Linked DNA regions of Homo sapiens. The protein of the gene in region 1 purifies or fractionates together with the protein of each later gene. This does not show direct contact. Each region holds a gene or a part of one and is shown on either strand. Other genes may lie near its edges.

Region 1 (3,500 bases):
CCTTAGACCATTCAGAGAATGATCCCCAAGTATTTTTCATAAACCCCATAGGGTTTCCTACATTAAAATAAAGTGACAGAGATCACGCCTTGAATAATTTCACAATTCCAGCAATGAGTTGTACTACTTCCAAATGACGAATTTTCTGCTCCAAATAATGGGACAAAGGGCATCATCACATGGACACAGTCAATTTCACAGTGATGGACTCACACAGGTGGATGATCTGAGGCACAAGCTGTGATTGGTCTTAAGAAAATGAAAGGTAGAGTTGGGTTCAAAATCCACATCTCACGATTTCTGGTCCTTATTCATCCAAAAAGTTGAACTGCTTCATATCAGTGTATTAGACACATTTTAAATCTTTCTCAAGAGTTGCTCTGGGTGCAGCATGATAAGGAAAACCAGGTATTTGGCTTGATAGCAGATATTCAAGGTATAGGTGCCAAGCTTATGGTAAGCTTCTCACCGTAGGATATCTGAGATCTGTTGCCACAAAGAGGACTATGGTCCTATGATGACTACTATAGTTCAGTTTTCAACATTTTGGGAATAATTTGATCATAACCTTTCCTTCTCGTTACATTATAAGACAGGAATTTAGAGTATTCACTCAAGAGGTTCTCCCAGTAACAGGTGATGTCATCCATCTGCAAATGGTTCCTAATAAACTGGCTTCCCCTAGAGACAAGATTTAACAAGAAAATGTTAAAGCACAGAATTTAATGATAATAGCAGTCTGCATTTGAGTGCTCACCTTGTGCCAAGCATTATTCAGCATTTTATATAAATTAATTCATTTGAGCCTCAAGAACCAACCCTATGGCAATCATATCCACATACATGCATGTAGCAATACAACTTAACAATCTTTTTCCTTTATTTATTTATTTATTTATTTATTTTTTGAGACGGAGTTTCGCTCTTGTTGCTCATGCTGGAGCGCAATGGTGCGATCTTGGCTCACTGCAACCTCCGCCTCCCGGGTTCAAGTGATTCTCCTGCCTCAGCCTCCCGAGTAGCTGGGATTACAGGCACGCACCACCACACCCGGCTAATTTTTTTGTATTTCTAGTAGAGATGGGGTTTCACCATGGCTAGGCTGGTCTTGAACTTCTGACCTCAGGTGATCCGCCCACCTCGGCCTTCCAGAGTGCTGGGATTACAGGCGTTAGCCACCACGCCCGGCCCATCTTTTTCCTTTAAAACAAGCATATGTAGACATGTGTGTATGTTTTCCCCCAGGACAGGTTTAGTTCTGAATTATCTCCATATAATGAGGATAAAATACAGATGTCACCATGATAACAATATTCAGATAACTTTGGCTAGGGCATAATGGGGATGACAAAAAGTAAAGTGGAAAAGGGAAAATGAACAGAACTCACCTTTCAGCAATCTCTTGAGCTACATCATCATTTGCTTTTACAAATTGTAACAGCTCTCTAAAATGAAAAGAATTTTAGACTGTGAAATATAGACCAACTTCATTGGCACTAAGTCAGAAAGACGATATAGATTGAGGTCTATGGATAATTTTAGGTATGTGGATGGTGGATTATTTCCTTCAAGCAAAGATATCAGGGTTCTCTCAAGAACAAAATAATAACAAAAAAAAACCCCCACACACTGATTAAAGATACCCTATTGTAGATTTGGGACATATTTGAGAAAATACAGAAGTTACCTTATATATTTACATATATTTTGTATATTTATATTATATATTATATTAGATATTTATATTATTTTACATATTTATATATAAATATATTTATATATAGAAAAAAAATATATATACACAGATATCACCATGATAACAATATTCAGATAACTCTGGCCCTTCTCTATACTTCTTCCTAGCTCCTCCTGTCATGAAAGGAAATTTGCTGAAGCTTCACTTGAGTCAATTCTCATGCTGTATCTGAAAATCCTTTTGACAATATAATAAGATTGAATATCCCTATCTTTAGTCTTGGAGAGATTAGAGCTTTTTAACTTCATTTTGTCTGAACGTTTCATTTGAAACCAGTATTAAAGCGCTTTTTCAAATTAAATTCCACTTATAGCCTACTTGGATAATAATGCAATACTATATATGCAAACCAAGAGGAAAAAAAGCTTTCAATGGAAAAAAATCGTAGGACTAAATGTCTTACATGACTGGTTTTAAGGCATTAAGGCATTTTTAAAAGCAGATTGGAAGGGTCTTTAGAAACTCTGCATTGGGGGATAACTGCTTACTGGACATTGGAGAGATCTGTTTTGACTGGGATATAGTGAACCCATGGCTTCAGCTGTGGATAGAAGAATTCTAGCCACTCATCACCAACATGGAAAACAAGTGAGCCACACAGGAAGAGGTGTTTAAACCGGAAACTTGCAGCTACGCCTCGAAAATTAAACAGATACCTGGGGAAAAAAGAACAAAATACATTTGATACTATATGCCTGCTGCCACAAATATGACCTTTTATGCTTATTCTCCCCTCCCCTTCTTTCCTTTTATGATTCCTCTCCATTCTCTTTCCACTTTGAGTTTTCAAGGACACATTAATATGTTCCTAAGTGGTTTCTATCAGCCACTTTACCAGGGCTAGGACTACAGGTTGTTCTGGGAATGGCAGGGTGAGGAAAAATAGGGGATATTTTCTCCAGACAGCACTAGATAGGGTCAGGAGCTGGGTGCCGGGTAGAGTGTATACAGGGCTCAGAAGGAAATGACAGCTTGTAGATTTGGAACATATCTGAGAAAATAAATGTTCAATGGTAAACATAAAATAAAACGAGTGAAAAAAATTTCACAAGCTTTTCTAGGCCTAATGTCTCTAACTAGTCATGGCCTCCCAAAGCCTTGTTTTTCCTCTAGTGTACCCCATCTGGTCGAAGGTCTCCACTGCTTCCTGGACATCACCCTCTTCTCTTAAAGTATAGAGCAGCGGTCCCCAACCTCTTTGGCACCAGGGACCAGTTTCATGGGAGACAATTTTTCCATGGATGGGTAGTGTGGGGGAGATGGTTTTGGATGAAACTGTTCCACCTCAGATCATCAGGCATTAGTTAGATTCTCATAAGGAGCACGCAACCTTGATCCCTTGCATACACAGTTCACAATACAGTTTGTGCTCCTATGAGAATCTAATGCCAAGGCTGATCTGACAGAAGGCAGAGCTCAGGCGGTAATGCTCGCTTCCCCACTGCTCACCTCCTGCCATGCAGCCTGGTTCCTAATAGACCAGTACCATGGCAGGGGGTTGGGGACCCCTGGTGTAGAGAGGAGAATGAGGAAAACCTAATCAATTTTCAGAGATTGCCCACAGGGGAAAAAAAAAAAACAAAAAAAGCTGTCTTCTTCTCAGCATTTCTTATGCACGCACCTGTCGCCAACCAGAGTTGCTTTCACCATATAGCTCCTACTCTGCGTGTCATTAGCACTCCTAACTCTGAGCCACCCCCACCACCACTGCCCTCCTCTAGACCTGGTTTTACCTGTTCATCTA
Region 2 (3,500 bases), on another chromosome or scaffold:
GTGTGTTCAAAGGAGATGCTCACTGGAGCATTTTAGACTGGAGATTTTTGGGTTAGGGATGCTCAACTGGAAAGTATATAGTGCACATAGAGTACTCCAAAGTCTGAAAATATCCGAAATCTAAACACTTCTTGTCCCAAGCATTTTGGATAAGGGATACTCACCCTGTAGTATAGTAAGTAGTTCAGAGCATGAGTTTTGGAAACAAGATGAGTCCTCGGTTGAATCCCAGCTCTGCTACTTTTTTTTTTTTTTTTTTTTTAAGACGGAGTCTCGCTCTGTCTCCAGGCTGGAATACAGTGGCACAATTTTGGCTCACTGCAACATCTGCCTCCCGGGTTCAAGCGATTCTCCTGCCTTAGCCTCCCAAGTAGCTGGAACTACAGATGCACGCCACCACGCCCAGCTAATTTTTGTATTTTTAGTAGAGACGGGGTTTCACCGTGTTGGCCAGGATGGTCCTGATCTCTTGACCTTGTAATCTGCCCGCCTTGGCCTCCCAAAGTGCTGGGATTACAGGCATGAGCCACCGCGCCCAGCCAGCTCTACTGCTTTTTAGCTATGTGACCTCAGGTAGGAACTTCAGTTTTTTTATCTGTAAATGGAGATAATAATAGCTTCTCAGTGTGGATGTAAAGATTAAATGATATATTAAGCACTGAGGACAATGTCTAGAACTAAGTACTAGCTATTATTAACATTAATTTTGTTACAGGGACAAAATTACTAAATTATATGTATTTGCATTTTTCCCTTCCTTTACTTTCTAAGAAGAGTGGTTCCTGAGCAAGATTTTAAAATTTTTCTAAGGAGGTATATTAGTTGTCTATGGCTGCATAAAAAATTACTATAAACTTTGTGGCTTAAAATAACATAATCTCAGGATCTCACAGTTTTCTGGGTCAGAAGTCAGGGCATGGAGTAGCTGGGTCCTCTACTCAGGGTCTCACAAGGCTGAAATCCATGTGCTGCAGTTGCACTGCAAGGTGTTGCTAGGGCTAGAGTTCCATCTGGAGCTCCAGCCCTCTCGACCTCGTTGGTTTCTGGCAGAATTCATTTCCTGTGGTTGTGGAACTAAGGTCCGATTTTCTGCTGGCTGTGTGGATAGTAAAGTAAGTGAGCTGAAGGGCTGGAGACATGGGATGGCTGGAGTTGACATTTTGGAGATCAAACGGATGTTAGTAATGATGTATATAGTCTAGACAGTGACCAGGAGAGTTGGCAACTGGGGTGAGGTGAAGGAAAAGCTTGTGCAAAGTGAGATCAAAGAACTGAAAAATCAGATGTTGGTGTACATGGACTTGAAATATGATGTGAACAAGGGAGAGGATAGGAGCAATAGTAACAAAGATGACAGTGTGCTAGCCAGCAAAATTGTCAATGAATGAAAAGTAGTACCAGGAAGGCTATAGGTCAGCATACTGGGGAGCGTGGTGTCATCTCCCAAGGCATGTGCTTTGGGTGAGCGGAATGTTTGAGAGAAGAGGGAAGAGAAGCATTGAGGAACAAGGAGATCATCTTTCCCCTCTCCCACTCTGGACTCTGTGGTATGTGGTAGGTAGGCACTAAACAGGAGAAGCAGCGGCTGCCAGGGAAGACCTAGTTTCCATTAGAGAAAAGATGTGCCAGAGAGAGAATTTTTTTTCTTTTAACGAAAACTTAAAAGTTAACTTCGTTTTATATTCAGATTTGACACCTGCAGTTTTGTCCTGGGGAACTGTATATGTGATTTATGTTTCCTGCTTCTTATGCTCAGTCCATTTAGCTGATTAGCATCTTTGTTTTCACTTCTCTTCTCCACTTCCCTTATTGATTTTTTTTCTCAAATCTAGAGTTCCTAAAAATGGTCTTAATGCAAATCGGCACCATTTAAAGTGAATATCCTAGACAATCTTATTTCTTGCTGTTCAACCACAATTGTAACACCTTAGCTTTTATCCTTATACCAGTCTGGAAGCAGCTTGAGGATTGTAGGCATTAGGGGACTTGAGAGGAGTCAAGGAAGGAGAGAAAGTGGCAAATGCAGTTTTCCTCATTGTTACAACTTAGCCATGGGATGGGCCTGCCTACGTATATTTGTCTCTCTAGCTCTGGGTTTTTGTTAGTTCTAACTCTCTTCCACCCAGCCTACTACCATCTTTGTTCTTCCCATTCCATATACATGATGTTAAAACGCACTGCTCTCTTTTATTCCTTCTAGCTTCTTTCTTCTAGAGGGTTTACATTTCTTTTTTTTTCTTTTTTGAGACAGAGTTTCGCTTTTGTTGCCCGGGTTGGAGTGCATTGGCACGATCTCACCTCACCGCAACCTCTGCCTCCCGGGTTCAAGCGATTCTTCTGCCTCGGTCTCCCGAGTAGCTGGGATTACAGGCATGCACCACCACGCCTGGCTAATTTCGTATTTTTAGTAGAGATAGGGTTTCTCCATGTTGGTCAGGCTGGTCTTGAACTCCCAACCTCAGGTGGTCTGTCCATCTCGGCCTCCCAAAGTGCTGGGATTACAGGCGCGAACCACTGTGCCTGGCCAAGGGTTTACCTTTCATACAAACCATTAGACGAACTCTCTCTTCTTGTTACTATAAAAGTCACTTCCTTAAATCGGACCTTGCTGCCCTCCTTATCCCTGCAGCAGTCCTGCAGCCTCCCCATGGAAGTCCTTTTCCTCTTGTCGGTGAGCATTAGGGATCCTCTTGATGACCTCTTCCCACTGCTTGTTGCATTTAAAACCCTCAGCCCCAAGAATGCCATTGCGTTGATGATTTACTCAGTAGCTAAGAGCAGATCATTTGGAGATTTTCCCCTCAAATGCAAACTTCTGTTGCTTTATGGAACACGTGAAAACACTGTCAACTTGGAGGACAAACTAAGCTTCCAATAGAGTAGAGATAGAAATGGTGAAGACTGTATATTATGAGGTCACCTTGTCCTTTACTATTTGTGTGACTTTGGGCAAATCACTCAAGGTTTCTGAGCTTCAGTTTCTTTATCTGTCAAATGAGATAAACAGTACCTAACTTGTGTGGTTATTTGTGTGTTTTGTTGTTTTTTTTTTTTTTTTTTTTTTTTTTTGACAGAGTCTGGCTCTGTCACCAGGCTGGAGTGCAGTGGCGCGATCTTGGCTCACTGCAACCTCCGCCTCCCAGGTTCAAGTGATTCTCCTGCCTCAGCCTCCCAAGTAGCTGGGACTACAGGCACGTGCCACCACACCTGGCTAATTTTTGTATTTTTAGTAGAGACAGAGTTTCACCATGTTGGCCAGGATGGTCTCCATCTCCTGACCTTGTGATCTACCCGCCTTGGCCTCCCAAAGTGCTGGGATTACAGGCATGAGCCACTGCGCCCGGCCAGTGTGGTTGTTTTAAGGGTTAAATGAAGTAATAATGCATGTAAAGCAACAGTGCCTGGCTCTTGGAAAATACTCGGTAAATACTATTCCTTCCCCTATTCTCCTTTTCTCTCAGCTCCCATCTAATTCAATTATCTTTTCATAAAATCTCCAA
Region 3 (3,500 bases), on another chromosome or scaffold:
TTTATTTTAATTAGCTTCTGTATTTTCCACATCTGTAGAATATTATTTTAATGAATGTTAATACATGTTAATTCATAGCATGCATCAGTCAAGATGGGTTAGATTATGCTGTGTTAACGAACAGCTCCCAAAATCTTCTGGTTTGTAGTGTTTTCTACTTATTTTGGTTTATATTTTTTTAACGTAACCAGCACAATGCCCAGTAAATCACAGGTACTCTGTAACTGTTTTTTTGAGACGGAGTCTCACTCTGTCACCCAGGCTGTAGTGCAGTGGTGTGATCTCCGCTCACTGCAAGCTCCGCCTCCCAGGTTCACACCATTCTCCTGCCTCAGCCTCCCGAGTAGCTGGGACTACAGGCACCCACCACCACGCCCAGCTAATTTTTGCTATTTTTAGTAGAGACGGGGTTTCACCGTGTTAGCCAGGATGGTCTCGATCTCCTGACCTCGTGATCTGCCCGCCTCGGCCTCCCAAAGTGCTGGGATTACAGATGTGAGCCACCGTGCCTGACCACTATTTTTATTATGTTTAGTAGTAGTGAGCTTATCATATAATTCTAAGTAGACAGTAATTCTGTGATTACATGATATACACTGGGAAGATACACTGTGGATGATGTAACTATGGTTTGAATGCACAACTGGCTGACAGGTATATTCAGAGATAATTTTTTATTGTATCACTGTTATTCTAAGATATACTGTGGGGTAAGAGTTATTTTAGTAGTTTCACTCAGAACTTAAATAGTATAGTAAAAAAATAACTAAATGTCATCAGAAAATTACTTAAAATTCTTTAAGCTTTTATTTCTTCACTGATAAGATGAGGATCGTAATATCTATACTGCTTAACTCACAGAACTAACTAAGATGATATATATAAAAGCATCAAAAGCATTTTACAGGCTATAAGATAATAAAGTGTAAGTTCTGTTACAGAGATCAACGCTTACTGTAAGAATTCTAAGTCATTACGGAAAAAGCTAGTTGTGTTCACTAGAGTTTGCATAAGAGTCCTGGACTGTGTAATGTATTTTACAAAATTTTCATTAAAATATTTATAGCTCAAGAAGCAAAATATCTACTATCAGAAAAATTCAGTGCTGTTGGATAGCTTATCCTCCATAGATAAAGAATAAGTCAGGTGTTACTGACATTATTTCTCATATGTCCAGAAACCTGAAGATATGTTAGCATTAAATTCATAAGAGATTAGTGCCATTTCTTTGTCATGTTCTTTTGAATAATGTCCAATATTCATCTTTGGGGTGTGGAGGATTTGGTACTGAAGAAAATATCAAATGTCAGTTAAAATGAAGACTCCAGAGGGTTGGTGATGAAGATGTTTAGTAGAATCTATTTCTCTAGAGCCTGGCACTGTTTCTGACACATATGTGGTGTTCAATATACATTTGTTAACTAAATAGCAAGATGTAACTTTTAAATCATGATTTTGATTTATGACTGTAAGGAGAAATTTCCTAAAATTATAAAAATTGTTGGAGTATTAAAAAATGGTTGAATTCAGGGCATAAATTTCTGAGTGACCCTTGTTTGAGTTTTGGTGTGTATTTTCAAAATGTTATGTTACTTTATAGTTGTGTATTCTGCTTTCTTAAGTGAAAGTAAGCTGTTATCCTGTTTTCTTTTAATTTATGTCAATCAGTCATTCAATAAGATCTCATTAATGCATTAAAATCTGTATGTAAGTTTCTTCAGTATATAAATTTAATGATTCTTGGGATTAGTCTCAGTTGCTTCAATATTTAAAAGTATAATTAATATTTTTTACCCCACTAAATTGGATCGAAATTATTTGATAGTGTCACACAGTCCTACAATGCAAAAACAGCTTAAACTACAAATGCCATAGATAGACAGACAGACAGATAGATATTCCTTTTTATTCATTTTAAGATTACATCAAAATAGTACAGAAGGTTTAACTGAATGTATCCATGTGGTCAAATACGCTAAAAGGAGTTTTGCAGGAGGAATCAGAATCTGTGTAAATGAAGGAAATAGAATCTGTAGAGTGCTGCCAAGTTATGGATATTAAAAACAGCGATTGTGGAATTTAATTCCTATATAAAATATTTAAAACCCAATTTATATAATAAAATCAAATCTATTAATTCATTTGCCTTTTTTAAAAAAAGCTTTTTTATATTGCTGGATGGAATTTTTTGACCCAGTGGTACTAAATGTGCATTATTTAACAAAAGCCAATACTGGCAGTAAAAGCAATTCTAAATAACCTTCCAAGACATTCTCAGAGGGTAGCAGTACCAGTAAGCACTGGAAAATTAGTTTTATTTTTAATTATGAATAAATTAGGGTCTTTAAAATATTTTGTTTAGTTCATATAATGTGATGATTCGGTTTTCCTTCTAAAGATACTTCATTGGGCTGATAGAATTGGAAAGAACTCTACCGGTTTATCTAACCCCTCCTGTTACCGAAGGAGGACACAGAGGTTCAGAGAAGAGTAAGATTCCTAAAAGCAGTTGATAGGCATAGTGCTATGACCTTTGAAGCAGTTTGTACACATGGGACAGTTTTAACATTGCAGATGTGTCATGTGGTTTTTCTTTGGGAGCAATTAGAGTAATTTTTAACCTGAAAATCATTGGAAACATTTTTTATTTCAAGAAGCTAATCTATTGTGCTAAGGTTTTCTTTTTCATCCCCCTTATTAGCCTGGGCATTTTGATAAATGTAACTAATATTATCTAGCACTTTTCAATTTCACAAACATATTTATATTTTACATTCTCACTTGAGTCTCAGAACCACCTTGTCAGATAAGGCAATACTACTCTTATCCCACAGATGAGGAGACTGAGGCTAAAGGAAATTTAATTGTTCAGATCATGTAGGTAAGCACAGTAGGAGGCAGAGCCACATTTGAACCCAGACCTTTCTACTCCAGAACCTTTGTCCCATCTCTGTCTAGTTTACATAGTTGGAAGTTGCTTTTTAAAAGTCAGATTGTTGGGCAAGGGAGGGGAAAAAATAAATAAATAAATAAAAGATCATTGTGATGACACATCACTATTTAAAGGAATTCTGTGGTCAGCCCTTTTGTTATAGGAAAAATGTCTTACTAGCTACCACGTGTTGAATGCCTGCTGTGGGCCAGGCAGTGTGGTAGGTGCTAACCCTCAGAATCTGCGAAGCGTTTTAGAAGGGAAGTTGTGCTGCTTATCTAGTAAGTAACTCACGTAGGATTGTTTGCCTCCAAAACCCCAACTTCCAGCTATACCCCAAATTCAGGTTTCCCTAAAGGAGAACACACTCATATGCTTATAGCAAAATCATTTTTTAATGTGCTCCTCATGAATTACATACATGGGTGTTGATATTTACACATCTAGATTTCCATTTATTGATGCAGTAATTGCAAAAATACTACTATTGGCTCAGAAGCTCATGAAATTTAAAAAAGAAAGCCAGGAAGGTAAATCAATCAATAGCTGTTTATACAAGTATAATTGC
Region 4 (3,900 bases), about 77 Mb from region 1:
TGAGCCGAGAGCACATCAACTGCTCTCCAGCCTGGGTGACAGAGCAAGACTTTGTCTCAAAAAAAAAAAAAAAAAAAAAAAAAAAAAAAAAAAAAAAAAAAAAATTAAAATGCTTTGAACTTTAACATATCAGCCAACTTGTTTAGCAACATCATCAACTGATTCTCTTTTAAGCTTTTGGATCACAGGAGCCGTGTATTCAGCCAGTTCAGGAATAGCATGCCTGTCTCTCATAATTCTTGGCAAACAACTGCATTATCAAACAAATGTCAGCAGGAGGGTGGGGTGGGGGGCGGTAGAGGCAATTGGGAAATAAGACCCTAGTGAATTACTGTTCTCTGTCCACTTTCCATTCTAAACATGGGGAATGTGGATTCTATTATTAAAGCCATGGAATTTATAGGTAAATTCCATCACCACCTCTGGCTATTAAGGCACCCCAATTTTTCTTTCTAACCAATGTGTAAAAAATGTCTTTAAATGTAAGCAATCACAGGTGGTTAATGTTTAACTTTTTATTAAGAAACTAAGGCAAAACAACAGAATTCCAAAAAATAAAGATACAGAATTCTAATTTAAATTCTAAACAAATATAAAAATCAGAGTTTACCAGTATTTTTGAGTAGAGGGGAGTGGCTAAATGCATTCACAGTAATTATTTCTTCCTTACCAGCCTCAAGTTTGCAACCCTTTCCTTCCTGCTTCACTGGGACTAGAACAGAATTTCTCATTCATCTTTTGCTACTATAATTTTTGCTTCTATAGTCTAAAACTTCAGAGGAGCTTTTGTCTTTCTCCGCAGTTCTTTCTCTGTTCCTTCAGCAAATATGTGAGCACCTGCCTATTGGGCTTACATGTTGTGGCACAAAGATGAGTCCGTTAGAGATCCTGTCCCAGTTTAGGGGCGATATGACACCAATAAATAATCAATAAATAATTTTAAACAAGGTATAAATAAATACAGCATGAGTCAACTATAGATATATAAAACTAGGGAAATTTCAAGGAGAGATTACATTCAGCTAGAGAAACTGAGGAATGTTTTTGAGGACAGCATTTGGGCTGGGTGTGGGCTGTTCCTAATAAAGGCTTCCAAGTGGTCCTGATTATCTACCACAGTCCCAATTGTGGAACTGTGGTGGTCTCAATTTCTGGAAAGTAATCTTTTCAATGCTAACCTTTAAAACTCCTTAAATTTCTGGCCTGGCACGGTGGCTCGCGCCTGTAACCCCAGCACTTTGGGAGGCGAGGTGGGTGGTGTTGGCCAGGAGTTCAAGACCAGCCTGGCCAACATGGCATAAACCCCCTCTACTAAAAATACAAAGATTAGGCCCGGGAACAGTGGCTCATGCCTGTAATCCCAGCACTTTGGGAGGCTGAGGTGGGTGGATCACAAGGTCAGGAGTTCGAGACCAGCCTGGCCAACATGGTGAAACCCCGTCTCTATTAAAAATACAAAAATTAGCCAGGCATGGTGGCAGGTGCCTGTAATCCCAGCTACTCGGGAGACTGAGGCAGGAGAATCACTTGAACCCGGGAGGCAAAGGTTGCAGTGAACTGAGATCACACCACCGCACTCCAGCCTGGGCAACAGAGCAAGACTCCGTCTAAAAGAAAAAAGAAAAAAATTAGCCAGGTGTGGTGGCACATGCTACTCGGGAGGCTGAGGCACGAGAATTGCTTGAACCTGGGTGGCAAAGGTTGCAGTGAGTCAAGATCGTGCACTCCAGCCTGCGTGACTCTGTCTCCAAAAAAGAAACACACACACCACTCCCTAAGTTTCTATCTCTTCAAATTACTCACTTCTTCAAAATAACAAAAAAAAATTAATATTAATATGACAATCTACATAGTTTGGGGATTTAAAAGTTAAAGCTGGGTATAGTGGCATACACCTGTAATCCCAGCTACTTGGGAGGCTGAGGCAGGAAGACTGCTTGAGCCCAGGAGTTCAAGACCTGCCTAGGCAGTAGAGTGAAACCCTGTCTCCAAAAACAAACAAAAGTTCATTATACAGTAGTAGTTTCTTTATGGTTTAGGGCTCTGCTATTTTTGAAACTCTTTCTCCAGTCAAATAATTCTAAAAGGCAGAAAATGCCTAATCACTGAACAATGATTTTAAATATTAACTGGGTAAATCTTACTTTCTTTTGGTGTCTTATTGAATCCATATCTACACTTTATGTGAATGAGGGAGATGAAATAAATGGCTTAACATTTAAGTCAAATAATGAGAAAATAATGGCAACTATGAAATGACATTAACCACAAATTCCTTGTATGAAAAGATTTAATGAATTATGAGCCATTGATCATTACAAACTTTAAGCCTTAATATTTCTTCTTTCCTATGTAAAACCAGGTAATTAAAACAGCCTGTCTCAGTATGACAGAAGACCATAGTAGGGATAATAGTAACGTCTGCTTCCACATCTGCATGCTTCGTTAACCAACCAAAGAAAGTGCTCCAGGTTTCCCAAGTCAACAAAGTATACTCAGTTACACTTTCCCTGATCATACTATGAATTGAAACAGAACACTCCTTTGACTTTTAATAGCACTTTTCATCCACGGCACAAGCACTTTCCCATTATTTTCTCCTTTACCCTCAATATCCTTGTGAGGTAGTGAAGGGAGGGAGCAAGGATTTTTTTTTTTCTATTTTGCAGATGAGAAAACTCAAGGTGAATTTTACAACAGTGGTTCTCAACCTTGGCAGCATATTGAAATGACCAGAAAGTTTTTAAAAATCCTTATGACCAGCTCATATTCCAGACCAACATCAGAATCTTGGCATACGGAACCCAAGCATCGATGTGTCTTCCAACATTCCAAAGTGACTACAAAGTGTATACAGCCAACACTGAGAACCACTGGTTTGAATGATTTACACTCAATCTTCAGGCGCAACTGTCTTCTACCGAAATGCTCTCCTCAGCACCAATGACAAAGATATTCCATCTCCTTGAGCACTGCAGCAGTTTAAGATTTTGTAGAGCTACTACTGGGTTTTAGTGACAAATTTACGTAAATGAAGGCCCTCATGACCCAGATGCTCATGCTGCTCACTTCAATTGCATATGATTTGCGAATGGGACATTCGGGAATTTAAATCTTTGAGATAAGAATGGCTTGTTGTTAAATATTGAGGCAATTATTTCATTCTAGGTCCAATACGCAATAACCATGTGTTTCGGTTTTCCACTCAGCACCTTCAAAACTGTTGCAAATGAATGTTTACTAACAAGACAAAAGAGACAATTATAAACCAAACTCTCAACAAAATTCGGAATGGCCACATCACAACCTGAAAAAGAAACAAGTACTTAAAGGACTTGATCACTTCCTAACAAGTCCATCTTCAACCTGAACCACTTCTCTTGTTTAATCAAATTTTAAACTTTGCCGAACTGAGTTGTTCTACACCAAGAAAAATCAATTTCTATACCACCTACATTCTCTAATACATTTAACATATAATTTCACTCAATACAAGGAGGTTTCTTCTTAACCTGGACATCGAAAAGAATCTTTAACAGATTTCATCTTTTCAAGCAATGTATCAAATACACAATAAATACTTGTAAACTTTTCAGGTGGCAACAATAAATCTTTGTTCTATGGCTGAAATCCCTTGCTTCACAGGAGTATTGACAATCTTAACTCCCAAGGAGCAATCCAAGAATCCCGGCCAGCTGCTGGGTGTCCCTAATCAGATTTAAAACAAAACATACATACAGCAAGAACTCAGAAGTACAAAGATTTCGCTCGCTTTTGTCAATTCTTATGTATCTAAAACCATACAATTTATACTTTCATACAGAAAGATGTCTGTTTCTTTTCTAACAAAAGAAAAACTCTCAGCTCATGTGGGTTGGATTATTAATTCAAAAGCATTTT

What was found. Proteins that work in one complex are often made in the same cells at the same time.
Region 2: the proteins of POGLUT1 (region 1) and QRSL1 fractionate together in Homo sapiens (co-fractionation; one large-scale study listed by BioGRID). This does not show direct contact.
Region 3: the proteins of POGLUT1 (region 1) and RASSF8 purify together in Homo sapiens (co-immunoprecipitation; one large-scale study listed by IntAct). This does not show direct contact.
Region 4: the proteins of POGLUT1 (region 1) and FBXO45 purify together in Homo sapiens (affinity purification with mass spectrometry; one large-scale study listed by BioGRID and IntAct). This does not show direct contact.

Annotation. Positions count from the first base shown.
Region 1 is NC_000003.12:119,489,463-119,492,962, reverse strand, and holds part of POGLUT1 (protein O-glucosyltransferase 1 precursor), read right to left. Parts: intron 2,413-3,500; coding exon 2,245-2,412; intron 1,446-2,244; coding exon 1,389-1,445; intron 682-1,388; coding exon 525-681; 3' UTR 1-524. UniProt on the Homo sapiens protein: Dual specificity glycosyltransferase that catalyzes the transfer of glucose and xylose from UDP-glucose and UDP-xylose, respectively, to a serine residue found in the consensus sequence of C-X-S-X-P-C.
Region 2 is NC_000006.12:106,636,078-106,639,577, forward strand, and holds part of QRSL1 (glutamyl-tRNA(Gln) amidotransferase subunit A, mitochondrial), read left to right. Parts: intron 1-3,500. UniProt on the Homo sapiens protein: Allows the formation of correctly charged Gln-tRNA(Gln) through the transamidation of misacylated Glu-tRNA(Gln) in the mitochondria. The reaction takes place in the presence of glutamine and ATP through an activated gamma-phospho-Glu-tRNA(Gln).
Region 3 is NC_000012.12:26,059,682-26,063,181, forward strand, and holds part of RASSF8 (ras association domain-containing protein 8), read left to right. Parts: intron 1-3,500.
Region 4 is NC_000003.12:196,585,660-196,589,559, reverse strand, and holds the end of FBXO45 (F-box/SPRY domain-containing protein 1), read right to left. Parts: 3' UTR 501-3,900; downstream 1-500. UniProt on the Homo sapiens protein: Component of E3 ubiquitin ligase complex consisting of FBXO45, MYCBP2 and SKP1. Functions in substrate recognition but also plays an important role in assembly of the complex.